4 linked regions of the Homo sapiens genome follow. The protein of the gene in region 2 interacts with the protein of the main gene of each other region in a pairwise test. Each region holds a gene or a part of one and is shown on either strand. Other genes may lie near its edges.

Evidence for each region.
Region 1: the proteins of LZTS1 (region 2) and LMO2 interact in binary tests that used the Homo sapiens proteins (3 or more experiments, as listed by UniProt).
Region 3: the proteins of LZTS1 (region 2) and LMO1 interact in binary tests that used the Homo sapiens proteins (3 or more experiments, as listed by UniProt).
Region 4: the proteins of LZTS1 (region 2) and GARIN1B interact in binary tests that used the Homo sapiens proteins (3 or more experiments, as listed by UniProt).

Annotation. Positions count from the first base shown.
Region 1 is NC_000011.10:33,881,576-33,889,214, forward strand, and holds part of LMO2 (rhombotin-2), read right to left. Parts: intron 702-7,639; exon of another isoform or gene 609-701; intron 365-608; exon of another isoform or gene 313-364; 5' UTR 249-312; exon of another isoform or gene 244-248; intron 1-243. UniProt on the Homo sapiens protein: Acts with TAL1/SCL to regulate red blood cell development. Also acts with LDB1 to maintain erythroid precursors in an immature state.
Region 2 is NC_000008.11:20,245,365-20,252,302, forward strand, and holds the end of LZTS1 (leucine zipper putative tumor suppressor 1), read right to left. Parts: intron 5,000-6,938; coding exon 4,358-4,999; 3' UTR 801-4,357; downstream 1-800. UniProt on the Homo sapiens protein: Involved in the regulation of cell growth. May stabilize the active CDC2-cyclin B1 complex and thereby contribute to the regulation of the cell cycle and the prevention of uncontrolled cell proliferation. May act as a tumor suppressor.
Region 3 is NC_000011.10:8,225,633-8,233,271, forward strand, and holds part of LMO1 (rhombotin-1), read right to left. Parts: exon of another isoform or gene 7,240-7,639; intron 6,475-7,239; exon of another isoform or gene 6,347-6,474; intron 5,453-6,346; exon of another isoform or gene 5,337-5,452; intron 4,873-5,336; coding exon 4,659-4,872; intron 4,647-4,658; exon of another isoform or gene 3,929-4,646; coding exon of another isoform or gene 3,792-3,928; intron 1,469-3,791; coding exon 1,343-1,468; exon of another isoform or gene 1,222-1,342; intron 1-1,221. UniProt on the Homo sapiens protein: May be involved in gene regulation within neural lineage cells potentially by direct DNA binding or by binding to other transcription factors.
Region 4 is NC_000007.14:128,725,164-128,732,655, reverse strand, and holds the end of GARIN1B (Golgi-associated RAB2 interactor protein 1B), read right to left. Parts: intron 6,441-7,492; exon of another isoform or gene 5,835-6,440; intron 5,829-5,834; coding exon of another isoform or gene 5,823-5,828; coding exon 5,785-5,822; intron 2,755-5,784; coding exon 2,587-2,754; intron 1,557-2,586; coding exon 1,543-1,556; 3' UTR 913-1,542; downstream 1-912. UniProt on the Homo sapiens protein: RAB2B effector protein required for accurate acrosome formation and normal male fertility. In complex with RAB2A/RAB2B, seems to suppress excessive vesicle trafficking during acrosome formation.

The sequences.
Region 1 (7,639 bases), on a different chromosome or scaffold from region 2:
CTAAAAAATTATTATACACACTGTCTCTCAGCTCAAATATGTATGCTCTCACTCCAAGTTCAGATCACAATTTACAATTCCGCATTTTGTAATTGTTAAGTGCAGTCTGGCTTCCCCAAAGACCTCAAGCTCATTCTGCCCAGGATTAAATCCAAGAGCCTTCTTAGCCCAGTTTCTGGCATGCAGGAAGCATACAATAATGGAAGAAATGAATGAATGAACAAATGAATTAATGAAACCCACCTTACCTGCCTCTCCACTAGCTACTGCAAGTTCAGGTTGAAAAATATCTTCTTTTCAGAGCAGTTGTTACTGAAAGAAAATGAGAGGAACCCTCTGGTTTAGACAGCTAGAAGTAGAAAGGAGAAAGAGAGAGAAAAAAAATTCTTATCTTCAGTTAGAGAAATGTTTCCACAGGTCCTTGATAAACTAGGGAAAAAGACCCCCAGGGCTTTCTGATAGCAGGCGGGTGTCCTTGATAGCGTGACGGGTGGGGCAGGCGGAACTTTGGCATCAGGGCGCAGGGATGGATTCTAACGGTTTCTTTGCTGGTTGAAGAGGCTGCTTCCTGCCGACTTCTTTTTTTTTTCTTCTTATTCTTCACTTACCAGCCCAGCTTGTGAATGTGAAGGAGTTGTCCCTTTTCCAAATGAACAGGACTGGTGTATCAGGTGGCCTTGCCATTGTATGCACCTGCCGGTCTGAGAAAGCAAGTGTTCTGTCTGTATCTGCAACTGTTTGTGTCTCACGCTTTGCAAATCTCTTATCCCTCTGAGTCTCAGAAATCCCCCATGAGTGAAAAAGGGCAGGTAGCCTGGTGCCCATTTGATAGGAGAGGAAATTAGGCCAAAGCCCTTTCAAATCTCAAACATGCCTAAACTAGAGAACTGGATGACCCTTGTTCCTTAGACTCGGGCATTCTTGCTCACAGGAATGTCTTTTGAAAATTTATTTTTCAAGAGGAAGAGCTTCATGAGGCAAAAGCCAACACGCAGACACCGTATTACCTAGCGGCATTTATTGGATTTGTCTCTTGAGTGATTCAAACAAAAGATTACGGTTATAAATAGATAGACCTAATTGTGGCAAACAATGCCTACCTTTTATTGAGCACTTATTATGTGCCAGGCATTTTAAATACTTGATCTTATTCAATCCTGATAAGAAACCTCCTGAGATCAGTAATATTATTCCAATTTTACAGAGGAGGAAAGTGAGAGAGAAATTTCAATAACTTTCCCAGGGTCATACAGCTGCATAAATGTAGGAGACGGAATTTAGACCTAGGTCTTCTGACTATGCCCTCACCTCATTCACTATGCCAGTGTTTCCCAAATTTCCTACGTTTGCATGTTAGGAATACATATTCTTAGGCCCACACCCAATCTCCCAGATCAAGGGAGAAACCTCAGAAGGCCTTTCCCTGGATACCTGATCTAAAAAATAGCCTCCTCCCCAGGCACTAACACACCGTTATTTAATTTTCATCATTATATTTGTCACTACTTGATATTTTCTTATTTGTGTATTTGCATATTGTCTTTCTTCTCCACTAAGGGATGAGTTCCATAAGTGCAGATACAAGATGTCCAACGTTTTAACTTCTAGAAACTGACCAAGGGGGATGGTACCTACGAAGTACTCAAAACATATTTATTAGATAAGTTAGTAGACACTGTCCAAAGTATTGTGTTAAGAAGAATTGTGAGTCTGGACCCAGGTTCTGGAGAGAAGATGAGAACACTGGTGTGTGTCCTGAGGTTTCAGGATGGGAAAGTGTTGGCACATAGGCCATGTATTTGCCATCCCAGAGAAAGAAACTCAGTCTCCCCAAAATTAAGAGGAAGATGACACAGAAAGTCAGTAGGAGAGCCAGGTAAAATGCAATCACTTCTTTCCAAGACCTTTATCTCTTACTTGGAAGTCAAAATGAACACATTTGTAATGGAGAAGAAATCCATGGTCAACAGTGAGGTGCTGATCAAAACTGCAATCAGATTGGATTAGGGAGAGATCAGAGTGGATGGACATCAGCATGGAAGGCTTTCTGGAGGAAGCAGAAAATCGAGTTGCCCCTTGATGAGCGATTATCTGGAAACTTCCTTTGTTGTCAGGCTTGTACTTTGAGCTATACATAGAGTGTTTTTTAGGCCCTTGCAACACCCTAATGAAGTAAGTATTGTAATCATAATTTTATGGGTGATGAAACTGAGTCACAGAAAGCCTACAGAACTTGCTCCAGCTCACAGGGCTACTAAGGACTGAGTAGGAATTAACAGCCGGTGATTTCAATAATGGTTTTCTTAACAGAGCAGGTGTGTCTGGTAGGAAACAGCCCAAGTAAGGGTCTGGGTATGGGGTCAGTTGGAGGAGCTGGAGGTGCAGTTCACAGGTAGTAATGAAGTCAGCTGGTTGCAGAATTGGACCATAACAATATTCCAGTGAAAGGAACCAGATCTGCTGTTCTCTCCCATTTAAAAGCCTTGGATGCCAAAACGCACCACACCTGACCCGGTGATCACAGGCAATTCAAAGGTGTATTACTTATGCAGGCATAGGCAGCGAGGGAAGCCACTGGTTGAGGGCCCCACTGAGAAGAGGACTCCCTGACTTCTGGGGAGGAGAAAGAGCCTGGTGCTGGGGACCTACGTAGATATAGGACAGGGGCCCACCTGTTGAATAATGCCGAGAGGAGGTAGTGGGGGAAGATTAATTTTGAGTGATCTGCTCCATTGGGGGTCAGGCTGGGGGTGGTCAATCAAAAAGAGTAAGGGTGAGTTTTCTTGCATATGATTACTAGGTGCTGCAGAGGTGAGTGGGGCTGAGTGGGTGGTGAGGGGTGGGGTGCCCTGATGGTTTCTGCCCCAGTGGGTGTTAACTATTTGGACAAATGACATTTTGCTGGGAGCAACTTTTTGCACTCAACTCAATTTCTTCAAAATTCACTCCCTAACATTTGGTTCACCATCCAAAGAGCTAATATACTTGTATATAGGCTGTACCAATTTTACATAGCCAGTGCAGTATGTAAGTCTACTTGTGGGCAGGAGGGCTCCTAAAACAAGGTCACCCCAGGCTACAGGGGACATCCAAGTCCTAGGGAGTTCAGAGTACCACATGTAGAATTTGGTTTCTGTTTGGTGGTACATCCATTGGGCTATTTGGATTACTTTGCCTTGCAATATTTATCCACGTCCAGCAGGATACACTATGCCCTCTGAGAGCATATACTCCTTCTGGGAAGCTGGCATATCATCTGGAGCTAGTCTCTTATCTGCCACCCTGGCAGTTAGGGGTTTTTGCCCTTCAGTGAAAGCTTCCAGTGCTGCTGTTTTTTGTGTTACGTGGGCTGATAGGACCTCGGATCTTTCTCTGAAGTATCTGCTAGTTTTCCTGGTGTGATCATATTGTAAGACCTTAGTCCCACTCTTCTGGCCCCAAGTCATGCTTATACCCAGGACAATGGGTAGGAAGACTGCCCATCACCTCTGACTGGGGACTGTGACCAGCAGGGTTAAATTGCAGAACAGTCAGAAAAATGTGAAGGGGGTTGTCAGACTTAGCAGTGTGCAGGTGAGTTTAGGTATTTGGGACGTCAGGAAGAAGTTATCTAGGAGTGGAACAGGTGAAGCAGGTTCCCTCTGGGGCTTCCAATCTCTTGTGTTCCTTTAATATCTGGGGTGGGCCATGACACTAGTTGTGCTGTGTGGGCCTAGGAAGATACAAGCATAGGCATGTATTTATACATTTGGATAGATGTATGATCTGGACTCATGAGCCGGGGACCAGACTGGATAACATCTGAGCCAACATAGGACAGGGCAAGACCTAGGAGCCTAGACCAGAAGTGTTTGGTGTTGGTGGTTTTGTGGTGCAAATAAGGGAGTGGCCTGCTCATGGGGGCAGATAGGAGGCCCAACATTGCATGAGGTCCAGCCACTGGGATGTGGCTTTATCTCTGTGTACATACAAGTTAGCCCGGAGATAGCCTTAGGCAGTAGAATTGCTTTGGGAGGCCCAGGAAGGGAAGTTCCAGCCACAATGGCAATGAGGTTTATTGTGCCCAATGGGGAGGAAGTGAGAGGAGAGAGTTATAACTTTGGTGGCCTGTGTGGTGGCCACCCTTTTCAGGTATGTGACAAATGCTGATTGAGGGATCCCCCAAGGGAAGCTGTTTGTGCTCCAGCAAGGGGGTCCCTTGGTAGATGATGTGGGTAACTGGTGGGCAGCCTCCAGGATGCAGTGGTTGGCTGGGCTGTGGTCATCACCTGCAATGTGGCCATTGTCTCCCTGGGCTGGTACACCTTTTTTTTTTTTGAGCCAGAGTTTCGCTCTTGTCACCTAGGCTGGAGTGCAATGGCACAATCTTGGCTCATTGCAGCCTCTGCCTCCCAGGTTCAAGCAATTCTCCTGCCTCAGCCTCCCAAGTAGCTGGGATTGCAGGTGCCCACCACCAAGCTTGGCTAATTTTTTTGTATTTTTAGTAGAGACGGGGTTTCACCATGTTGGCCAGGCTCGTCTCAAACTCCTGACTTCAGGTGATCCACCTGCCTTGGCCTCCCAAAGTGCTGGGATTACAGGCATGAGCCACCATGCCCGGCCACAACTCTTAAGTCAGATTTGGGTCATGGAGATATAGGCTGACATCTGGAAGGGTGTCACAAAGATGCACAAAGCAGAAGGGGTGCTTGAGGGCACATTTAGAAGGGGTGCTGGAGGACACCACATGCGCTGGGCTGACAATTGGGCATCATTTCTATGATAAAAGTAGTTTGTAGGGGAGGTGGGACTAAACATACAGGACCACATTCCTTTTTGTTTGTCCTGATGGCTTCTCAGGATGATGTGATATTCCTGGCCCATGGTGTTGTAGAAGAATTGTACATTCCAAACAGATAGGGATGACACTGTGGGTGCAGTATTGCCGAGGTGTCCCAGCGCTGAGTAGGGAAACTGTGTCCCAGGCCACCAGCTATATCAGGCATAGCCAGCTATAAAAAACCTAAAGGTTTCACAATAACATTTTCAGTTTTTAGACTCTGTAATAGCATTTAGGGCTGGCCTTTTATAATGACAGGGGCATCTGTATCCCACAGCTGTGAGTGGCTGTCTGTGCTTTGGCATCCGTGGTGGGGAATAGACAGCCTCAGGCATTGTTATTTCAGAACACGAATGTTGGGGGGCTCCTTTGTCTTGCTCCAAGATCCACATGGTGGTAGGTGTCAGTCCAGGGGCCAATATTCTATCCCCTGTGGAACAAGCTTAACATTAGCCAGCCTTTAAATCCATCACAACTGGTAGATGTGTTAGGGGATGGGAGAGCCTCATTTCCAGGCTGGTAGAAACATGTTGTCAGGGACTTCGCTCTTCCATCCATAGCCAGCAGGTCCCACTTATTATTTGCCATTGGTCTGACACCGATGCCTTGTGAATTGTGGATAGATTGAAAAAAGATATAGGAATGAAGGATCAGAGGAGCAATCCCACATGGGAATCCATGACTTGGAACCTGGGACTCTTGTCAGAACTAGTAAGTGTAAAATGAGGGCATTTTATTATGGATGAGGGGCCCATAGGGGCAAGTATCAAGGGAGATAAGAGCAGTAAGGAAAACTGATTTGGAAACCACAAGCCATTTTGTAGCTTTAAGAGAATATACATCATTGTGGAGTTTGCGGTAGCCTGGTGGGAGAAGTGAGCCAGTGACAGACAGGAATACATGTCCACCATGGTTAGGGCATATTGTGGGGTTGGGGAACCTGAGGGAAGGACTCATTACCGTCAATTTTCCATCATGAGTGTGGTCAGTTTCCTCAGTGATTCTGCTAGGAGTGACATATTGCACCCACCCATACTTCTCCACAGATATTCAATATGTTTGGGATAGCAGTTGATTATGGGTGGGAAACGTAAATGCAGCATCTTATTGTGGAAGGCCTTAGCTGCAAGTCTCCAGGAATGTGGATTTTTTTTTTTTTTTTTTTTTTGAGACAGGGTCTTGCTCTGTTGCTCAGGCTGGAGTGCAGTGGTGATACTGTGGTTCACTGCAGCCTTGACCTTCTGAGTTCAGGTGATCCTCCCACCTCAACCTCCCAAGCAGCTGTGTGTGCCACCACGCTTGGCTAATTTTTGTTTTGTTCTTTTGTTTTGTTTTTTGTTTGTTTGTTTGTTTGCTTTTTGTAGAGATGGGGTTTTGCCATGTTGCTCAGGCTGATCTCAAACTCCTGGGCTCAAGCCATCTGCCCGCCTTGGCCTCCCAAAGTGATGGGATTACAGGTGTGAGCCACTGCACCTAGCCAAGAATGTGGATTTAATGAGCCACTAGTCCATGGAAGACTCTTGAACAGGGGAAGGATGTGAGTGGAGTTGCATTTGGGTTGGGTTGGGGTGGGGAGAGGCTGGAGGTGAGGCTGCTGTGCTAGGAGCTTAACCACCAGTGAAGGGTTGAAGAAAGGAGGTGGGGGCAGGGGGAATGACTGAGTGGGCAATGACAGAGGCACTCACGTGACTGGCCAAGACTTGTCTGCAGGAGACCAGGGAGCTATAGCCAGGCAGCTGCAGGGCCATTGATAGAAGCTGCCATGGCTTGAGCACTTGCTCTATGCATACTCACGCAAGCGCATTCGTATATGATCTCGCTCATCCCTCACACTGAGGTCATTTGTGGGATGCAAATGGCCAGCCTTATGCTTCTGCCCCATCCACACAGGTCAGGGGCCATACTCTGTGCCACTGCCAGGGGGATCCTTTCATAACCTGCATCAGATCATTTCGCTCCTCTGCTTGAAGCTCTCCCAAGGTTTCCTTCTTGCCCAGAGTAAAAAGCCAAAGTCCTATAAGGCCCTGCATATCTGGCTCTAGCCATCTCTGTGTCCCCTTCTCTTACACTCCCTTCCTCCTTCCCTCCCTCTGCTTCATCCACACAGGACCCCTTGTCATTCTTCAAACTCTTGCTTTAGGGCCTTTGCTCTTCTCCTTCTTCCGGGAACATTCTTCCCCAGATGTGAGTTCTTCTTATTAGAAAGGTCTTCCTTCATCACCTGAGTAAGACACTAATAACCCGGGCCAGCGCATTCCATTTTCCCTCACTCTGTGTTATTTTTCTCCCTAGCACATATTGCCATCTGGCATACTATATGTGTACTTGCTTATTTGATTGGTGTCTGTCTCCCCCTCTCAAGTTTGTAAGCCCCTTTCAGGCAAGAGCAATGTTTGTTTTGTTGACGTCTACGTATCCGCAGTGCCTAGAACAGTTCCTGCTGTGTATGAGGCGCCCAGTAAACACTTGCTGAGTGGATGAATGAAGTGTGTATTATCATCCTGATTCAATGAAAGGGAAAACTGAGGCTCAGGAAGGGTACGCAACTTCTCCAGGCAGGACAGCTAGTAGTCGCCAAAGCCAGGGTTCAAGTCTGACTACAAAGCCTGTCCTATTTCCGTTAGGGTAGAATACCCTCGAGGAGTCTTGGATCTTTGTAACTGAGAAAATGGATCTTTAATAAACAGAAATGGGGAAATTGAACAGGTTTGGGTAATAGGGGAAAGATGACAAGGTCATTTGGAGCTCTGCTCTTCTTTGAGTGCAGTGGGACCTCAGAGGCTAGGGGTAGCCATTTGAGCATCTCCTGTGTACCAGGCA
Region 2 (6,938 bases):
CAATCCCCGGTGCTGCTCTTTTCCCATCACAGGTGGGCAGGGAGCTGTGTGAACGCCCGCCCCGGAGACACTTTTCTGGTCTTCTCCTCTCTCCCGCTCCTCTTGTGTCCTACCCTTGCCCCAGGTCTTCTCCTGCCTGCATCTCCCCGGACCCCCGTCTACACTAACCTTCCCCACCGCAGAGGCCTTGTCATCTGCCCCTTATGTGCCCCCTATGCTGCCTTGCATTATCAATTTCCTCGTAACATGTCCCTTCTGTCTCCCACCACCTGAGCAGCAGCCCTCTGGGCCTAGGCTGTGGGCCCGGGATGGTAGGGAAGGTTGTCAAGGGGGCACCAGGTAGGCTGGAACCAAGAAGGCTGGACAGATGGCCATGATGGTGACTGCACCTGCCCCACCAGGGGGCCCTGGGGCAGTGGCAATTGTAGCCATGCTGGTCTTTTGCCAGGAGGCCATATGCAGTAGACCCAGGAGTTGGCTGGTGAGGTGAGCAGACGGTAGGGCATGCAGTTTGGGTGGGGAGGGGCTCTCTTTTGGAGAGGACGCTCTGACTCTACATGGACACCTGTCCCTGGGTCCCTTTTCCTCTCATTTCACAGATAAGGTCCCGGGGTAGGCGATGGGGGCAGGGGCCAGCTGAAGCCTGTCTGACCCCGGGGGCCCCTTTCCCACTGCCCTGTGCTGCCTTCCTCACCCCCTTCGCTGGTGGAAGGGACGTCATCTTTCCTGTTCCAAGGGGAGAAGTCCCAGGGAGCTGCCACACCGCAGCGAGGGGAGAGGAGGGCAGATACACGTGGCTCTAGAGGGCGTGAGAAATGGCATTCTTTATTCATAAATAAAAACATAAAATTGCCACAAATAGTTTACATGGCCAAAAAGTGACGTCAAAAATAAAATGAAGCTGTCAAAAGCAAACCAAACCAAACAAGAAACCACAAAGAGAAAAATAACTATGTACATCTTCCAGATGCTGGTCCGTCCCAGCCTGCCTCTGCTGGGGGCTCCAGCTCTGCCTGCAGGCGCAGCACAAAGGCCACCTTGCACAAGAGGTGGGTGAGCAGCCCCGCTGGCCCAGGGGTGCAGCCTCTGTCATGGCAGCACCCACCGCATGATGGCTTGAGGTCTGCAGGGAAATCCCTCTCCCCAAGCTGCTGCTCCTCCAGCCAGGCCTGGCTTAGTTTCGGGCAACTGTCTCACCTAAGAGATGGCCCAGGCTGGGGCCAGGCACAGGAGGCTCACTGAGTGCCTCTCTGGGGAAGAGATGCCCCCATATCCCAGTCCCATGTGAGCTCAGTGCTATAGGGGCTGTGTGTGCCTGGCAGGAGTTCACTGGGAGAGCTAGGAGGGAACCCCGTGACAGTCCAGTCGTTCCCAGGTCCAGGGGCAGAGTCCGATCCTTGGTGAGGTGATGCGGAGTGCTGCTCTCTCCTGCAGGCGTCCTTTGGGGACAGAGCAGGTTGGTCCATCCGAGTGGGTCAGTGGGTCGGCCAGCAGGCGTGCCCAGAGGGAAGGGCAGGAAGCCCACCCTGTCTGGGGCCTGGGGCCAGGCTCTGTGCTTGGAGGCTTCTGCTGTCCAGAGCCTCTTTCCAGAGAGGCAGAATCTGGCATGGTCCAAGAATAGTGAGGGCGCTTTTGGACAGGGCAGGAAAGAACACCCACAGGAAGGTGAGGTTGCAAGGTCGCAGGATACTTGCATTCTAGTGCCACGGTGGGCCACTCTGGGGCGGGGGCTGGTGGCAGCCCAGGGAAGACATCTGCCACCTTGGACGTAGGACAAGGCCTGGGGGGGACACATCTGGGCCGGCCTGGGACAGGGCCATGGAGATATGGAGAAGGCTGCACTCCTCTGTGTATGGAAGGTACCGGGACACCATGGCGGAGCACAGCCTCCGCCTCAGGGCCTTCCCCTGGGTGTGGCAGCCACTTCTTCTCAGGCAACGTCTGAGGCAGAGCACTGGACTCTGACTGCTCTTTCCTGGAGTTGGGGGGGGGTCTCCAGCCTGGGGAGGGGGAGCCAGCCCTTTCCTCTGTCTCCGTGGGGCAGTCTCACTGGGAGGAAAAACTCAAACAAGGCACGGCCTGGTGGAAATGAAGGAACTGAGGGCTGAGGCGCAAGGAATGGGGCATCTTTGACTTGGGTCTGGACTGTGCCCAATGGAGGGTACTGCCCTCAGGCAGGGAGGGACTTTTGGCTTGTAGATTCCAGGTTTAAGCCTAGCTTGGGACTAAGAGCAATGGTTTGAAATTCCAGAAAAGCTCCTCTGTCGTTTGAGGATGGCAGGATGGGCACCGTTTAACCTCAGGGACAGGAAGGTAGAGCCAGCCACAGAAAAGGTGACTCTGGCCTCAGCCCGCACTCAGGGAAGGGCTAGGACCCATGAGGGCGGGGGGCAAGGAGAGAAGCATCTCCCCACCCCTACCTCGGGGTCTCTAAGGGCCAGCGGTGAGCGAGGCAGAAATGGGGACTGGCCTTGGACTCGCAAGTTCCCAGACGCTCCCCTCCTCATCTCAGCAGGCAGCAGGCGCAGGCATGTGGGAAGGGATGCTGTCCTGAGAACAGCAGCTGTGGCTACAGTCAAAAATAGAACATGGAACAGCCTGCTAGGTCTGGCTTGCTTCTGAAAAGACAAGAAAGCAAAAAAGAAAAAGAAAGAAGAATAAAAGAAAAATCTGGCCAGGCACGGTGGCTCACATCTGCAATCTCAGCACTTTGGGAGGCCAAGGCAGGTGGATTGCTTGAGGCCACAAGTTTGAGACCAGCTTTGGCAACAAAACGAGACCCCGTCCCTACAAAAAAAATGAAAAGTTAGCCAGGCACGGTGGCGCGCACCTGTAGTCCCAGCTAGTTGGAAGGCTGAGGCAGGAGGATTGCTTGAGCCCAGGAGTATGAGGCTGCAGTGAGCTATGATCATGCCACTGCACTCCAGCCTGGGGGACAGAGCAAGACCCTGTCTCATAAAATTAAAAATAAAATCCCTGAACCAAACAACAGAGAAACTCCACCTTTTATCTCTCTCTACCACCGCCTCCCGCTCCGCACATCTGCAGAGAAACCCTGGACTCCCTGGGGCACTGCCCAAGCTCCTGAGAAAGGGAGCTGCTCTCTGGATCCTTTAGTCTGGGACAAATGGGGGTCTTGAGGTGGAGGGAGGATGGCTGGTGGCCAGGCTATTCACACTGCTGTGTGTATGCCTCTTTTTCGTCCTGCTTGGGGCTCTGGCTTCCTGGCGCTCTGAGGAGCCGTCCTGACCTCTAGAAACCCAGAACTCAGCCCTGAAGGTGCTAAGGGGGAAAGGTTTGCCGCTAAACCTGGCTGTAGGCAGAGGAGGAAAATGCCCAGATCACATATATGCCATCTTAGTGATATGGGCTCTTCTGGATCAAGCAAAAGCTTGATTCTGGGGAGGGAAAAACATTCCAGAGTAGCCGCCGGCCAACGTGAAGCAGGTAGGGACTCCCAGCCTCTGGCCCCAGCTGGACAGATGGGGAGGCTCCCTGAGGGTGCCTGGAAAGCCACACCCTCTGGTTCACGGTGGTTTCAACCCTCCCTTCCCAGCACCCAGCCCAGGGCCTCAGGGTCTATGGCTTAAAGAAGAGTGGTCACCGAGGTCAAAGGTCACTGGCTGTCCAGAGGCTGCTCAGCTCCCATTTGCAAGAACCAGTAAACAGGGGCTGGGCCCCAGGGGCTGGCCATCACCCGCCACTGGCTCTCAACCCTTGGATTCTCCCTCTGCCCTCCTCTGGCTGTGGCAGGGTCTCCACACTGCTGGGCTGCCTGTCTCTCCCCTCCTTCCTGTGGCTTGCCGGGGCTGGGACAGCCCTGAGGTTTCAAAGCCAGCTTCCCCGCGGCTCATTCCACCCCTACACCTCTGCGGCCAGAGGAAAATAGCTCAGGTTCTGATGGGGCTGGTTCCAAGGCTTCTGGTCATATATGGCTTCTTTCTATTTCCAAGGCATTCCAATGTGTCCAGGAGGAAAAAGAGGTTGGGATGAGAAGCAGAGGGGAGCCGCTGTACTTGCTGTGGCCACCTTCCCTGGAGGAGGGGGAGAGGATATCTATTTCGAACAAAGGCCAAAGTTTAGGGAGCCCTTAACCAAAGCAGACAGACCCCTGGACCCATCTCCTGGGAAAGCCAGAGGAGTCAGGGCCTGACGTCTGGTGGGCTGCAGGGCTGGTGAGCACTGGGACATCAGAGAGGGAAGGAAAGGCCATCCTGCCCTCCCCTCGGGGGTCCTGGGTCTGTGTCCCAGGGAGTGGCGTCTCTCAGAGGGGTCTGAATTGCTGAGCAGGGGGGATGCACGGGAGAGCCCTGCCTCCCAGTGCCAGGTCCCCAGACTCGCCTTCCCAGGCAGCCCCTCAGATCTCAGTGGCTATGATGTCCTCGTAGGGGATGTCAGCCCCTTCCAGGTCAACCTCCAAGGGCTCCCCGGCGCTGTCCCCACGTGCCAGCTGCTGCAGGGCCTTCTCCAGGCGCTGGTTCCGCTGGTACATGGCCACGTAGCTCTGCTGCAGCTGTTTCTGGTACTGAATCACCTTCTCCTTCTCCTCCTTCCACACGAGCCGCTCATGCTGGAAGCCCGAGGACATCTGGTCATGGCCTTGCCGCTCCTCCCGCAGCTCGGCCCGCAGCCGCTCCAGCTCCCGCTGCAGGGCAGGGACGTCCTCGGGGAAGGTGGGCGGCCCCATGTCGCGGGCCAGGGCGGCCTGGGCCCGCAGCTCCTGCAGCTCCTGCTCCAGCAGGTTCACCTTCTCCCGCAGCAGCTCCGCCTCGTTCTTCTTGCGCTGCAGCTCATTCTCACAGACCTCCAGCTCCAGGCCCTTGGTGCGCAGGGCGCCCTCCAGGTCCTGGGTCCTCAGCTCCAGGCCCTCCAGCTTGCCCCGCGTGTCCTTCAGCTGTGCCTTGAGACCCAGGATCTCGCTAGCCTTGGCGTTCACCTCCGTCTGGGACTCCTTCAGCTGCTGCTTCAGGAGGGAGATCTCGCCTGACTTCTGGCACACCTGCCGAGGGTGGGGTGGAGACAGAGTGCCAAGAGGTGAGTGTCCTTACCCAGGGAAGTGACAGCTCAGCTGCCTAAAATAACCAAGCCACTCCGGATGCGGTGGCCCGGTGTTAGGCATTCCAGCCTTTGTCCAATCTGAAAGTAAGCTGAACATTGCTGTGACCTTTTCCCCAGGTTATCGAGCTAGGCTATATAGTAAAATGATAAAATAATAATAATCATGTATAATGACACATAGTATATTATTATTGTTATTATTTGAGAAGTCTCGCTTTGTCACCTAGGCTGGGGTGTAGTGGCGTGATCTTGGCTCACTGCAACCTCCGCCTCCCCTCTGATTCTCCTGCCTCAGCCTCCCAAGTAGCTGGGATTACAGACACCTGCCACCATGCCTGGCTGATTTTTGTATTTTTAGTAGAGACGGGGTTTCCTCATGTTGGCCAGGCTGATCTCGAATTCCTGACCTCAAGTGCTCTGCCTGCCTCTGCCTCCCAAAGTGCTGGGATTGCAGGCGTGAGCCACCACGCCTAGCCACACAGAAGTATATTATTATAAACATACTTTCACTAATAATTTGTAGTGTTATTAAGTGCCAAGCCATACATTTGCTCATCTATTCCTTACAACCCGATGAAGTAGGTACTATTAGTAGTCCTCAATTTACATCAATGAAACTGAGGCACAGAGAGGTTATGATAGCAAATAGCTGGTGAAGTGACCAGCCTGAGGGCTAATATATATATATATATATATATATATATATATATATATATATATATATATAAAATATAAAGTATAAGAGTAGAGATTTGATCCCAACAGTTTAATCACTATACCCCATTGCCACCATGGCTAATGTATTTACAATCACCTGGATCATAAGTGGTCAAGCTGAGGTTCAAAGCCAGGCCCATGCCTCAGCCATGACTGTGTCACTCCCTTCGTGGCATGAATACAGGGTTGGCCTTGGAATGAAATTCTTGGTCCCAAGCACGCATCCTGGGTAGGGTCGGATTTTCTCCAGGACTGTGCAGTGTTTCACTGAGGGCAAGGGGAAATTTCTACTGTGAAAGGAAATGTGAAGGTGGCTTCCAGGCTAGTTCCAAGAATCCATTCTGTAGAGCCACATGCTCTGGACTTCATTCACTCTTAAGATTCAGCCAGACTGGCCTTGGTCTCCCATGACCCCAGATGGCCAAGATCCAGAGACACATGGGTCTAACCTGTGGCTTCGGTTTTCATCATTGCTCTTGGCCAAATTTTGATGGGGGATAGGGGTGGAAATAGAGAAGAAGAGCAAGAGGAGAAGACAATGATTCCTCGTTTGACAGATGTGGATTGGGCTCTGCATCCAAGCCAGCATGATACTAGTCACTGGGTACAGCAGTGAATTTGTGAGGTAGTCTTTACTCCAGTAGACAGGAGAGAGGAGGGCTGGGTGCATGCAGGGGTGAGGTCAGAGGATGTGGGCATAAACGTCGATGACGGAAATCAGGCTGACACCAAAACCAATACCATTGGTGTTAAATGGGGGTGATACAGCTGCCAGCAGTGGGCAAGTTAAACCACTGGTTGTTGACTTGCACATAGCCAGGGGTTTGCGTGTAGACTGAGAGTTGGACTCTGAACTGGGGGTGAGGCAGGCACGTGGACAGACCAAGCTGGGTGCGAGCATGTAAAGAGCCTCAACGATGGGCTTGAACTCCATGAGTCATCCAGACCACCAGGCTGGTGAGAAAAGCTGCTTTCCCACTAATAGATGCAGAGGTTATGGGGTTCTCCAGCACGGTCAGGTACAGATGCCTCATTTCCACGTGTGACCGGGTGAGTGAGTGTGTGTGAGTGTGTAAGTGTGTGAGTGGGGGACTCTTTACTTCCTCTCCTAGGTTTCCATCTCAGCTCACCAAATAGAAGTTCCACTTACACTTCAGCAAGGA
Region 3 (7,639 bases), on a different chromosome or scaffold from region 2:
TAGTCCTCCCCAAGTAAGGGAAGATTCCGGTCCTTTCCCTAAAGATGTCCCCAGGGTGGGTGAAGCCTTTAGTGAGACCCCAAGATCGCTGGCCTAGTTCCAGCAGATCCCAGTTCAACCACCAGGTGGCGCTGTAAGTTCACTGAGCCCTCCTAACAGCAGGTCCGGCCAGAGCCCCCAGCCAGACCAGCGTTCCCTGTAGGTCCCTCTGAACCTCACTTCAGGGAGCACTTGTATGCGTTCCTACCTGACCTGGGGGCTCCTGAGAAGAGCGCCTGCCTTCTGGTGCTAGGCCCCAGCCAGGGCTGAAGGGCTCTGGCTCCTTAGGTCCCCAGGGACTCCCACAGGGCTAGGGCACAGAGTTGGGGCCAAGAGACCAGAAAATAGGCTGGGCTGGAACCAGAATCACAAGGGCTGGGTGAGGAGAGAGTGGCCACTCCCTGAGGGGACTTTGCCCTCCAGATTTGGGAACCCCTTCTCACTGGAACATACATGCACACACATGCACATACTATACACTGGGTACGGGGGTGGGAGGATACGTTATCCCATGCACATGCACGTTTCAAACACGTATACAGGCTGGGCGCGGTGGCTCACACCTGTAATCCCAGCAATCTGGGAGGCTGAGGTGGGCAGATAACCTGAGATCAGGAGTTCAAGACCAGCCTGGCCAACATGGTGAAACCCCGTCTCTACTAAAAATATAAAAATAAAAATAAAAATAAAAATTAGCCAGGCGTGGTGGCACACGCCTGTAGTCCCAGCTACTTGGGAGGTTGAGGCAGGAGAATCACTTGAACCCGGGAGGCAGAGGTTGCCGTGAGCCAAGATTGTGAGATCACACCACTGCACCCCAGCCTGGGCAACAGAGTGAGACTATCTCAAAAAATAAAATATGTATACACACATGCATACTCACCTCATCATGCATGCACGTTGCACATACACATACACCCCCAGACATTTAAAAACACATGTACAAATGCATATTAATTCCATCATGCACATGTGCCCACTTGTACATTTCCAAATACACATGCATGCACATGCACACTCAACTATGCATACACAGTAAACTCATGCACGCCTTCATTATATTCACACAGAAATGTGCCACACAGATGTGCACACCCAATATTAAAGTGCACACATTTGGCTACCGAGCTTACACACACATAAAACACATAAAGCACATGCACGCTCATAACCTGCACGCACCACCACATACACACACGCAACCCGCATTTGCGTGCACGCCTCCGCCGTGCTCCTGGCCCATCCCAGCAGGCCTCAGGCTGGCGTCTGGGGAGTGTGTTGGGTCGGCCAGTCCAGCACTGACCTCTGGTTGCAGAGCTGGCAGGCGAAGCAGTCGAGGTGATACACGTTGTCCCGGGCCCGCATCACCATCTCGAAGGCTGGGATCAGCTTGCTGCAAGCAGCACAGTTCCCTGTGGTGCCAAAGAGCCTGCCGAGGGAAGGGCGCAGAGGACTCAGCAGCATTCTGGGAAGCTGGGTGGGCAGGGGGAAAGGAGTTGCCTCCATCCAGGGTCCTTCCCATACTCCAACTTGTGGGCTCAGCAGGTGGGCTCAGGCAATAGGATAAGAGCACTGAGGGCAGCATCTAGATTCTGCCCAGAGATCAGGCTGCCAATAAATCAGCACATCCCCTTCCAGGGAGGGTGTGTAGGGGGTCAGGAGTTGGCTGCCACTGCCCATCCCAAGGCCCCCTCCCAGGCTCCCACAAGGGTCCTCAAGCCCTGGAGCCACCAAGAGAATCCTAGGCTGGGCCCTGAGCAAGCCTGAATTTCAGGGGCAGACTGAATCTTGGGTTGTGTGCCCTCAGGCAAGTCAGTGAGTCTCTCTGAGCCTCATTTACCTCATCTGTAAAACAAAGCCTGAAACACACCCTTTATGGGGTAGTTGTGAAACCTGTTGTAAATTCTCAGTCACAACTCACTAAGCAACCACCTAGGTAGTGTTCACTATGTGTCAGCCACTAATCTAAGAGCTTTACAAAGATAAACGCTTAATCCTCACAACAAACCTAGGAGGTGGTACTATTATTATTCCCCATTTTAAAGATTTAAAATATGAGTCACAGAGAAACAACTTGGACAGTCACAGGGCCTTGGTCCAGAAGGCGTGCTCTAAACCACTGCATGACATGCTTTTCCCACCTTTAACATTACAGTGTTTATTATTTGATTTTTAAAAATAGAGATGGGGTCTCACTATATTGGCCAGGCTGCTCTCGAACTCCTGGCCTCAACTGATCCTCCTGCCTTGGCCTCCCAAAGTGCTGGGACTACAGGTGTGAGCCACTGTGCCTTGCCAAAATTAAAGTGTTTTATTAAATCTTTTTTCCATGACAAACTCACTGTGTTACTTGCCTAAGTCCCTTTTTTTCTTTCTCTGAACCTCAGTTTATCCTTCTGTAAAATAGGGATGGATGATCCTATTCAAAGATGCTGTAAAACAGAACTGATGCCCAAAGGAAGCGCCAAGGACATCTGGCACAAATGCCTCTTTGAGGCAGGCACCCCTCCTCTTAGCTGCTGGCTGTAAAGCTCTAGGGACAGGGAGTTTACTCCCTCCCCATGCAGGCCAGCCCTTGGCTGGATGTCCCAATGGTCTGAGCCATCCCGGCTCCTCCTTGCTTCTTTCCTGCACACAGACAGAGCAAGCCCCAAGTGAGGCAAGGAGGCTGAGAAGAGGGTGGGGGGCCCCTTTAATCCCCGATTTGTCCAGCTCAAACTCAGGCGCCTGCAGATGAGCTTGGCTCCATTATTCATCAGCTTGAGCTGCCTGGTGGCTCAGATTAAGGCAGACAAAGGCTAGGCCACAGCATCTGCCTGCCAAGAGGGGCTTTTCTTGCCATCGGCCCAGGAACAGTTGCTGCAGAGGGCGCAGGCTCTGGACAGCCATTCTCCAGGCCTGAGCAGCTCAAGGAAGCCACGCTCGCATCCCAGCCCACTGGTCTAGCTGGTCCTACAGTCACTCCTTGCCTCTGCCAGAGCAAAAAAAAAAAAAAAAATTACCTTCCATCCCTAGTAGCTGGCAGGGCCCTATATGCTTGAGGGTGCTTTTTCCTGATAAGCCCATCCTACACTGTGGGCCTCTCTCTCCAAGTCCTGTGAACCCATCAGATGGTCTGCCACATCGTCCTAACCTGGTAGAGTCAGCCCCCAGGTGATGCCCTAAACCTCCAGACATGGAGGCCCCTTCTAGGTCCTCAAGGGGTGAATCCCCAGGAACATTCTTTTCTTTTTTGAGACAGGGTCTTGCTCTGGCACCCAAGCTGGAGTACAGTGGCGCAATCACAGCTCACTGCAGCCTCAAACATCTGGGCTCAAGCAATCCTTCCACTTCAGCCTCCTGAGTAGTTGGGACTACAGGCATGCAGCCACTACACCTGGCTAATTTTTTTTTTTTTTAGAAACGGGGTTTCACCATGTTGCCCAGGGTTGGTCTCGAACTCCTGAGCTGGAGTGACGTGCCTGCCTCGGCCTCCCAAAGTGCTGGAGTTACAGGCATAAGCCACCGCGCCTAGCCTGAACATTCTTCCTTAACCCCTGCTTCTGGTCTCAGCCTCTCCCCTCCAGCCCTGGCAAGGAGCACTAAGTCACAGCTTCTGTTTTACTGCATCACTTTTAAATGCAGGTGTTAAAAGGGGCAGGCAGGTCAGTCAAAGGATCTTTGGGGAATTGAGGGAGCTTCCACTGATAACCTCCCCCTTGCAACATGCCCAGACCTGGGCAGAGGGAGCCCCATGAAGCCCTTGCCCCGACCTGTTAATTAATGCGATGAGCCCTCCTTCCCCACAAGCCCGGCAACCATCCAGCAGCCTGCGACAGAGCCAAATGCAGGTGCTGGGTCTCAGCCAAGGCCCTGCTTTGTGGCCTCCTTCCAGCCTTGCTGATGTCATAAATGGCCTCAGGGAGGGTTAATTGGGGGAGGTGGCCCCAGGGAATAGGATCCAAATTGTAGGGAGGGTGAGTTAGAGCTCAGAGGAATGCAAGGCAGGGAAGCATCATTCTTTCACCCTTCACGGGGAAGTAAACTGAGGCTGGGAGAAGATTAGGAGCCAAAGGCTCACAGCTAGTTCCAACCCAGGTCTTGAAGCTCCAGCATCAGTGGCCCTGCTCCTAGGATATGGCTGCCTGCCAGTTTCCCTGGGCAAATGGATGCCTGCTCCCAAGGACCATCTAGAAAGGAAAGTTGGACACTGGGAGATGGAAAGAGACTGCATTAGGGAGGAGGGTCCTGGGGAAGTCAAAGCTTCCACACCTGTTCTCAAAGCCCCTCTGAGGTATCCCCTCCCAGATTCCAGATCAGGTGGGTCAGAAGCACCTGGCCAAGGCAGGGGGGCGGAGCCAGACTGGGGCCCTCGGAAAGCTTAACTTAGGGGCCCCAGGTTACAAATGCCTGCCCTGGACTTGTGCTGGGTACCGAGTCCAAGGGCATAACGACCTGGGCCTTCCCCTCAGGTGACTTCTCAGGTATCTGGGGCAAGCAGGGCAGGGGCAGGACAGTCAAGAATGAGAGGACACACAGGGTACTGGGTCTAGGGCCGGGGGCACAGTCACGCTGGGGCTGAGGATGGGGAGCTTTCTGAGCAGGACAAGGGCTTGGGAGGCCAGGGTTTGGCAGCCCACCTCAGGTAGTCGCGTCGGCACAGGATGAGGTTGGCCTTGGTGTAGAGGGTGGAGCCCACCTCGCCCAGGCGGCAGTCACAGCAGGCACACTTGAGGCAGTCTTCGTGCCAGTACTTGTCCAATGCCTTCAGCAGATAGCGGTCCTTGATCTTGCGGTTACAGCCCGCACAGCCCTTCTGCTTCCCTTTGGGCTGGACGGAGAGCATCGGCACGCCTGCAGACGGACAGACAGACAGCAACGCAGGATGGGCCCCGTAGCTCTGGGCCTCAAGGAATATCCCCCAAGAATGGGGAGCTCACTGCTTCTCTCTGCTGCCCCCTCTAGGTTTGGGGCTCCCAGGAGCCCTCGCTTTCTCCCCAATAACCTCCTCCCCTGGCTCCGGGTCCTGCCCTTTGGGCTACATGGCACAGCCTGTTTCCCTGGCCCTGTGAAGGTCCCTCCAGAGGCTGCTCTGCTCCAAGGCACACACAGACCCCAGGCCTGGCCTCCCTGAGTTGTTCCTCCCTACCATGGCCTCTATCCCCTGTGCGGTCTCATCCGGAGTAAGCCTGAAGCTCGTCTTGTGAAGCCACCATCACATTGGCTCTTTCAGCAATAAGCCTAAGAAATGTAGTCTCCTCAGGCCCACGAGGTCCTCTAGAACCCCCAGATCTTTGTGCCAACTCGTCTTTCTCCAGCTGAAGTGCTACAGCCTCTTGGTCTATCCATGTAGAGCTGTGATGGCATCAAGAAGGAAGTGAGACGCCCCTGGGACACTCCCAGGAGGGAGCAGAGGCTCTGGGGCTCCTGGCAGGTAAGCGGAGGCAGCTGGCAGGGCCTGGCTGGGGCTCCCCTTGGGAATGCTTCAGGCGGTGTCACACCTCACCTGCCCTGGCCTGGGGGAGGGCAGGCTCTGAGCCTCTGGATCCTTCCTCATTCTACCAGGATTAGGATCTCTCAGCCATCAGTCCCTCCCAGGGCCCATACCAGCTTCCCAACATACACACAGGCACCAAGTACAAAGGGCCCAATGTGATGTTCACCACAGGGCAGAGCCTCCCGTCGCGGCAGGCGAGCATGTGCGCTCACACACACCCCTCACACACAGGCACGACGTGCAGGTGTGGGCATGAAGTGACAGAGGCACGGGTTCCTAGTCCCTTCTCCTGGAACCACAGGGACCGTTGAGGAGGAGATGGGGACATATGTCGTCCAGTAGCCTGGACATCCATGTGGACCCGTGAGGCTGGGAGGGAAGTGCAGAGGACCTCAGAAGCCCTGCTCTGTGACTTGACAGGGCGGGAGCCTGTGGCAGTTGCCTGAGAACCCTTGTGAAGACAGGGAGCGTGTGCATGCTCCGTTCCTGACCAAGGCGCAGCTGGATAGGGGCCCACCCCTCCCCACCTCCCCGGCTTTCCAACACTCCCCTGGAGTCTGTCCTTCTACTGGCCCCGTCCTCTCCAAAGGACCCCTGCTCTCTCCAGGGCTCTGGCCTTCCTCCCATCCCCTGGTGTCCCTCCCATTCCCAGCCCTCCTCACTGCCCCCAGCCCAGAGTCTGAATGGTTGGGCTGCTTCCCTTCCTTTTGCTTCTCTCCTCCTTGGGCGTTAGGGGAGAACAAGCCACAAGAGGCCTTGGTCTCAGAATCCACAGATGTAAGGTCAGAAGAGCCCTCAGAGTTCTCCCAGTTAAATGTTCTCATACTACAGATGGGGAAATTGAGGCTCAGACAGTTACAGGGGCTTGAGTCAGCCACCGTCAAGCTGGCCCCAGGGCTCCTTCTCCTCTCCTGTGCTCGCTCTCAGCCCAGCTGGCTCCTCAGACTTCTCCTGGACAGGTGAGTCTGGGGAGCTGGCGCCCACCCACAGGCTACAGTGTGCAGGGCCAGTGGCTCCCTCCTCCTTCTCCTCCCTGCAGTCCCGGCAGGGCCTGTCTGTTAGCTGGTGAGTGTGCTGCCTAATTTCCTTAATGCAGCTCTAAAGGTTAATTGGTCTGAGAGAGGGATGGGGCACAGGATGACTCTGTCCTCGGGCCTGCCTGTGTCTCTTCTAGCAGGGCCCAGCCTGGCACAGAGCTCTGAAAGAGCCCAAGGAGGGCAGCTGGGGAGCAGATACCCCTGAGAACTGAAGGGGTCTTGTGAGGCTCCTTCCAAGTCCTGGCCTACAGGGAGGTGTGGGGAAATGGGAGAGGAGTTAAAATAGCTGGATGGGGAAATGAGGGGCCTCCCAGAGTGGGACCTGGACCAGGGTAGGGCTCCAAGGGCATGACCTTGTCCTTAGGCCCTGTGCAGGGAGCATGCAGCCAGCAGAGGTACGCACTCAAACACCGACTGGGAAAATCTTGGGCCAGGCCCCCGCTACAGCCCCTACAAGGCTCACGTTCCTTTTGCTCAGCCAGGCTTGCAGCAGGCCTGGCTCCCTTCCCAGTGGTCCTGAGCCCCTCCCAGGGCTCTATATTTGGGCTATTACCAGAACATGGGTGAATGGCTGGAACCTCCGTACTCAGGGGAGACCCTAGCCCACTAAATTATAGCCCAAAATGAAGGGAGACAGTGAGAGGCCCCAGCACGTGAAGCAGCTGTCCCACTCTCTCTTCCATCTACCCTGGCTCTTGGACAGGCTGGTCTTCCGAGCTCAGACCCCAGCATGTTTGTCCTGGCTCCCGCAGGGTTGTAAACTCCAGCACTGGTCGACAATCTCTTCACTGGAGGCATCTGGCACCTAGAGGACCCTGTGGAAGCCATGAGGGGTGAAGCTGCCAGCCGCCGCAGGTCCCCCTCCCCACTGCCCGTGCCCAGGCTGGCCTCTGCACAGGCAGGTTACCTTAAGACCTGGACACCCCTCCCTCTTCTGGGGTGCTGAACTGATTCCTGGCTCTGGAGAACTCTTATAGAAGCCACACAGCTTCTGCCAAAGTGTCCCATGTCCACCAAGACATGGAACACCAGGGTCAGCCTGGCTGAGAAGGCCCCAGAGCATCTAGAGACCCTTGGGTCTAGAGAC
Region 4 (7,492 bases), on a different chromosome or scaffold from region 2:
GATCATCCATGTGGATGCTGAAATCACTAAGAATTAGGACATAACTCAGCCTTTGAGTAATGGTGATCCAGGAGCTTATTTTTTAGCCTTCTAACAATTTCAGGCTGAAAACTAGTTAAGTGAGGAAAAAGATGCTGCTAGGATATCTTAAGTCAAATCAAAATACCCTCCCCAGCTGGGGGATGGACAGCTTTCCTGAAATACTCATAGTCTGTTTCTCATTAAATGTGAAATTTTTCTTTTTTTGAGACAGGATCTCACTCTGTCACCCAGGCTGAAGTGCAGTGGCACACTCATTGCTCACTGCAGCCTCGACCTCCTGGGCTCAAGCAATCCTCCCATCTCAGCCTGCCTGGTAGCTGGGACTACAGGCACACACCACCACTCCTGGCTAATTTTTTTGTATTTTTGGCAGAGATGGGTTTTCGCCATGTTTCGCAGGCTGGTCTCAAACTTCTGGGCTCAAGTGGTTCACCTGCCTCAGCCTCCCAAAGCGTTGGGATTACAGGCACGAGCTACTGCTCCTGACACTATTGCACATTTTAAACAAAGAGGCCAGTCCATAGACCATCTGACAAACACTCCTTCATGACTCCCTTCATCTATAATTGGTAAACCTCTGATTAACCTGTATGTTGAGCCTATATCTCCTATCTCTGGAATCTCTAATTTAAAAAGCACTAACAAGGTATGTCGACATTTCAAGGGAGTGTTATACAAAAAAGAAGTTGAGCCAGTGTTTGCGGCACGGAGATAATAGCAAACTTAGGGAATTTGAACACAAAAGAGAAATTCGCCCTACCTTACACACCTTGTCTTACTACCTCCTATAAGAACCTTTCTGCAGCTCAAACCCAAACCTCTATTAGGAACAACAGGGCTAGCAAGTCCAAGTTAGGGAACAGGCCAACAAAGAAGGAATGAAGCTTTAATCAGAAGACAGGAACTAGCAAGAAAAACAGATAGAAAGGGAAATGGAAGGTGTCTGGCAGTTCACATTTGTCCAGAATGGTCTGAGCAGGGAAGAAAACATTTCTTTTTTTTGTTTATGGCTTTACTTTCAAGTTTTAAATTAGATAAATAGAAGCTTGGTGAGCATCTCTCAGGGGTGTGTCCCTTCTCTTGTCCTCCTTATCTCGTCTACCAAGTCTCTTCCGTTTCCTATTACCACTTCTCTTTGTGTCTCTCATCTGCTGACTTTCTCCCACCACCTTTCTCATCACCTCCATTTTGCTTCCTTCCACTTCTCTGGTCCTACTTCCCTTTCACTCCTTTCCTTCATCTCTTGGGCCCGGCCATTCTGAGAGCACATCTTGCTAGGCCAGCTCTGGCAGTGGCATGGAGGTGGCATATGCCGAGGTGCAGTGGCGAGGACGTGGTTATGTACAGCTGGAAAGGCTCTGCTGTCACCGTGAGATGACTCTATTCTTCCTTGGTTGCAGTTTTCTCCTACTCTCCATCCCGATAATCCCTCAGCAGCTGAATGCTGCAAAGTGGTGTTGACGAGGCTTGCATAGATTCTCCCCAGTGCGGAAGGGTGGCTCAAATAGAATTTCCTGTGAGTGTAGGAGAGAAAAGTGTTTGATAGGATATAAATTACCTAAAAAGCTCTTTTGTGGGCACACAGATACTTATGCTAATTTAAAAAAATTGTCAACTATCTATAATAGGTATCTTATAAGGGTTGGTGGTGGCCGGGCCCAGTGGCTCACACCTGTAATCCTAGCACTTTGTGGGAGGCCAAGGTGGGCAGATCACCTGAGGTTGAGAGTTCTGAGGTCGAGAGTTCGAGACAAGACTGGCCAACATGGTGAAACCCTGTGTCTACTAAAAATACAAAAATTAGCTGGGCGTGGTGGTGCATGTCTGTAATTCCAGCTACTCAGGAGGCTGAGGCAGGAGGATCACTTGAACCTGGGAGGCGGAGGTTGCAGTGAGCCAAGATCATGCCACTGCACTCCAGCCTGGGTGATAGAGTGAGACTCCGTCTCAAAAAAAAAAGAGTTGGTGGTTTATTCATGACATTTTACTTTAGAAAACAGAAATCACCCCTCCCTTTTAGGGAAATCTATCTCTGGTCAAACAGAGGCACATAGGAAGTACTTCACAAATGTTTGTTAAATGAATGTGTGGATGGACGAATGGGCCTTGAGCATGAAGACAGAAGGACTGGGACCTTAGGGAGGTCTGACCCCACCCCAGCCCCCTTAACCTACTTCCTTTTCACTCTCTGCATCCCAACCCAAGCAGTAAGAAGGCCCTTCAAGAGCTCCAGGAAAGGAAAAGAGAGGAAAGACCACATGGGGAGTCTGCAGAGGAGATCCCTTACACCTCCCATACAGCAAGAGAAAGCAGCTATAGCGTCAACAGCATCTGGGGGAACTCTGGGGGCCCTGGAGGTGCCACACATCATGGTTTTGCTCAGCCCAGTTGGGAAAAGAGGGCTGAGGTCTCTGTGGCCAGCATTCCTCGACCACACCCCACAACTTTCTGGAATCACCCTCAGGACCCCAGGATCTGACCCAGCCCTGAGGCTGAATGCCAGGGCTGCCCCACAATGGCAGGGGATTCCTCCCATTGCTGTACCTATGGGTGGGGCCAGCTGTGGCCCGGTGGAGGCTGCCAGAGTGCTGAGTAGTGAGAGGGGCTGCAGGCCGGAGGGGTTCTCTCTTTCCCACTCTCCGTACGTGAATGAAGCCCTCCAACGTAGGTCACAGGTGCAAGGGATGCTGTCTTCACGGGAAGAATCTTTCCCTAGATCAAGTAAAGAAATGCATTTGCTTGTGTGCTGGTTCACAGAGCCCTTACAGGTTACAGCTGACATTTGGGGGGGTGCTTACGATGTGCCAGGCACCATTCCAAACAATTACGTGCATTCATGGTCCTTTAATCCTCACCTCTGTGAGGTCAGAGAGGGTGAGTAACTTACCAACTGTCACACAAGGAGAAGCAGAGTCAGAATTCCAAGCCTGGCAGCCTGGCTCCAGAGTCCACGTTCTTACCACTATGTCACGTGAACAAGACAGCACCAGTAAAAGGAGAGACCCAATATGATTCAGATGGGTTAACTGAGTGGATTTCCCCAGGAGACTCATCTAGCTGAACTAGCAATGGCCTTGAACCCAGAAGACCTTAAGCTAGAGCCTGTTCTTGGTCCACTTGGCCCTGGCTCTTCAAAGGATGGCCCACAGCCCAGCACCTTGGGCATTACCTGGGAGCATGTTAGAATCGCAGTCTCAATCCCGCTAGACCCAAGAAATTAGAATCTGCCTTTTAACAAGATCTATGGGGGACTGTTTGGACATTAAAGTTTGGGAAGCACTGCAATAATAGGCCATACCACCTGCTGGTGGTGAGTGGAAAGATTCAGCCACACAGGTGCTGTTGGGCCTCTGGTTTTTCCAATTTTAAGTCTCTTTTTCATCCAAAAGTTCCAGAGGCTGGGGTATAACAGTCTTTTTAAACTGAGAGACTACACTCCCTCGCCGAATGAGAAAAGAGGGCCTGGAGGCCACCTGGGATGGTTAATTTCAATTCAATTTCAGCCTAGGAACATCTTGGCCGTGGTAGGTCCCATGATGCCAGATACCCTGCGACCCTAAAATTCTAGCTGTTTTCTCAAGTCCCAGAAATGTTTGAAATATTCCTCACATCTGTTTTCTTCAACCCTAATGTCATGGGGTATGTTTTGAGTGTGTATGTTTATACATATGTGTGTTTGAATGTATGTTTAAATGCAGAGAAATGAGTCACCATCATGTCATTAGTCGCATAACATGAGAAAACATTCTTAGGCTTGGACAAAATGTGAGGCAGCCACAGCTGTGCTCACCATTTAGAACAGGGGCTGTGAGCTGGCAGCCTCCAGGCTGAATGTGGTCTGCAGATATGTTTTGTTTGCCCACTAAGTGTTAGCCAATACTATGCTTGAATATTTTATGGGAAGGTGGTATGCCACATATGTCCAGATCTTTTGGCTTCTCTTGAAAAATCAGAATATTTGGCCTGGATTCCAGCATGGCAACAACGAATGGAAGTCTTAATTGAAGCTTTCACTTTCTCATTGCCACTATCCCCACCACTCCCTGCTGTCTTCTCAGTTTTGACACCAAGTGTCAGCTGCCAGCAGTTGTTTTACTTATAACAGAATTTAGAGAAAAGTTAACCTTTTCTTACATCCATGTCACCCAGCCCTTTATCCATTTTTTTTTTTTAAGTCTGAGTCTCGCTCTGTCACCAGGCTGGAGTGCAGTGGCGTGATCTCGGCTCACTGCAACCTCCACTTTCCCAGATTCAAGCGATTCTCCTGTCTCAGCCTCCCGAGTAGCTGGGACTACAGGTACGCACCATCATGCCCAGCCAATTTTTGTATTTTTAGTAGAGATGGGGTTTCACCATGTTGGCTAGGCTGGTCTCGAACTCCTAACCTCGTGATCCATCCACCTCGGCCTCCCAAAGTGCTGGGATTACAGGCGTGAGCCACCGCGCCCTGCCCCCTTTACCCATTTATACCACCTGCAGTCCTATGCATTTGTAATCCCTGATTTAGACGAAAGTTAGCAGAGTTCCCCTGGGACCTACAGCCTTCTCTAAATTTATAAATATCTTATGATATTTTGGCTGCCTACTGAGCCAACGTGAAGGAATAATTTATTAGTGCCATGGTATATGGGTATTAATTGCCTCCCATTGTGTTCTCAGGCCTCTGCTTCATGCTGTGGATAATTGAGAAGCCTGAAAACAATTTAGTATTCACTGAAGAAATATCCCTCAAACCTATAAAACAACTAGGGAATAATGAAAGAGAGGTTATGACCGAGGAAGGATTAGCCTGGCAGGAAGGTGTTGTGTGAAGGGTAGGATTTAGAAGGATAGGGAGGATTTAGAGTGAAGCATCGGGGGAAGGGAGTGGATGGGGGATGAAGGAGGCATGGGATGGCTAAGGTTTGCTGGAGCAAAAGATTTGGGCTAGAGAAGATGATTAGGCAGAGGGCTGCTATTAGAGGAAGAGTGAGTGAGCAGGTGAGATGGGTGAGATGGGGGAAGATTGTGCAGGGCCATGCATGCCGAATTGAGTGGATTTGGGGTGAACTAGAACCTGGAAATAGGGAACTGGCTGCTTTTTCCAGAATGTGTCATGCTCCCTCTTGCAGACTCTGTCTCTTCTTCCTAGAATGCCCTGCGTTACCTGTTTCAGCCAGCTCACCTGCACTCATTGTCTATGACTCAGTTCAGAAACCATGCCTCCCAGGCAAGCTTCCTGGCAGGAATGAGGGACCCCCTTCTTTGTGCTCCTTTGGCACCCTAGGCACAAGCTTTGAATGTTGCCTGGAAGGAGACATTTTGTAATTCGGGGATTTTCCCATCTGACACCACCAAATTATAAACTTCTTGCGGGAACATGGTGTCTTTCTACATGGTGGCCCTAGAGCCCATCACAGTAACTGGCACTCAGTGCGTGGTTTTGAATGAATAAATGGATAAATGAACTTATGGAAGAGTGCTACAGGCTTGAGATGAGAAGGGCTGGGCTGGGGTAGGGTCTGTGGGTGTAGAAATGAAGTAAAGAATACAAGATACATTGCAAAGAAAGAAATTGGTTAGGACTTGGTGCCAACTTGATTGTGGTGGCCAGAGAGCCTAAAGGAATTCAAACTAAGGCATGGAAGGACAATGGCAATACTGACAGCACCAGGACAACCAGGATGGGGGCTGGAGGGGATCTTATTCTTATATCCAGAGTAGAAAGCTCTTTGAGGCATGGTACCCTGTGCCCTCCCTTACCTGAGCTGTTCTTGTTGGTCTCCACCTTTCTGCTGCTCCTGAAACTCGAGCCATTTCAGGATCAAGGAAATGAAAGTTGAAAGTAAAGGAAAAGAACATTAAATTTGTATTTCAGATCTTGTTCCAAAGTTCCTGATGCAAAGCTTTAGAGACAGATATAAATATGAAAAAGGCCAGCTGTGGCTATATTGGATGGGTGTGACGCATATTAAAGTTCCAGAAAAAAAAAATCGGGAAGGGGGAGGTGGAATGGGGTGGGAGGTGGGGAGCAGAGCCCATGCTGCTGATTTTGCTGAGGAGGAGGGGGTGACTCCATCTGTTCAGTTCTGCATCTCAGCTATTTATTTTATTTGCTGTTAAGTTGCATGTTGTTGCCAATGTGCAAAAACTGATAATAATTGCAACCAGACTAGAACCAGCCCAAATGAGAGAAAAATCATCACTCAGGGGCTTCATTCTGGGAAACTAACAAGAAAGAGCTAAATGTCTGTACAAAGCAATTATCAAGATAGCAATGAAGCAAAAACTAATCCCTTCCTCCCCTCATTTCTTACATCCTTCCGATCTGCCCAGAGTAGGTTGCCATAGCTCCCTAGCTCGTTTTTCCACATCTCTCCTTCCCTTCAAATTAACTGTCAGGCAACAGCTAGCATGACCTTTTCAAAATGTAAATTGGATCACGTCACTTCCCTGTTTAAAATGCTGCTAAGGCTCCCATGATACTGGAAGTCTAAATATCTTCGCATGGCTTCCCAGGCCCCGCCTGGCTCACTCCTTGCCCTCTTCTATTTATTCTCTTCCACCACTACCCGCTTTTCCCCACTGGCCTTCCACCAAGCTTCTTCCTTTGTGGAAGCCTCAGCCTTGCACCTGCCCATTCCCTTAACCTGCCTGGCCCTTCTTCACCCTTTCTTTAGCTGTCTATTACCTATTTTCTCCTTCAGACCTTAGCCTCCTCTCAACTTCTAGAAATATTAAAAGCTGTCTGTGCCAGAGAGTGCCAGTAGGCCCCCAGTGACCCTTTTTGCCTTCTCCCTGGGGAGCACAGTGTCTAATTTTGTGTTGTGTACATGTCTATGCAAAATGGGGAATGCATTTCCCAGCCTCCCTTGCAGCTGAGTGAGGTCACGTGACTGAGTGTGGCCAATGAGGTATAAACAGAAACGGTTCTTTAAATAGTAATTTAAAAATCAGTGATTTGAGCAGACACAGTGGCTCCCTCCTATAATACCAGCACTTTGGGAGGCTGAGGTGAATGGATCACATAAGGCCAGGAGTTTGAGACCAGCCTGGCCAACATGGTGAAACCCCATCTCTAATAAAAATACAAAAATTAGCCAGGCATGGTAGTGAGTGCCTATAACCCCAGCTACACTGGAGGCTAAGGCATTAGAATCGCTTGAACCCGAGAGGCAGAGGTTGCAGTGAGCTGAGATGCCACTGCACTCCAGCCTGGGCAACAGAGTGAGACTGTCTCAAAAAAGAAAGAAAAAGGAAGGAAGGAAGGAAGGAAGGAAGGAAGGAAGGAAGGAAAGTGATTTGATAATTTGAGATAGCCAAAAAGCAGTTTCAAAATACCTTGCTCTATTAGAGTCCAGTGCCCTCTAGCTCAGCAATATGACATCTCATCGAGAAGTTCCTTAATTACAGAGCTCTGTATGATATATGGAGTGACAATCTCCAGGATATATTCTTTATACTGGGCAAC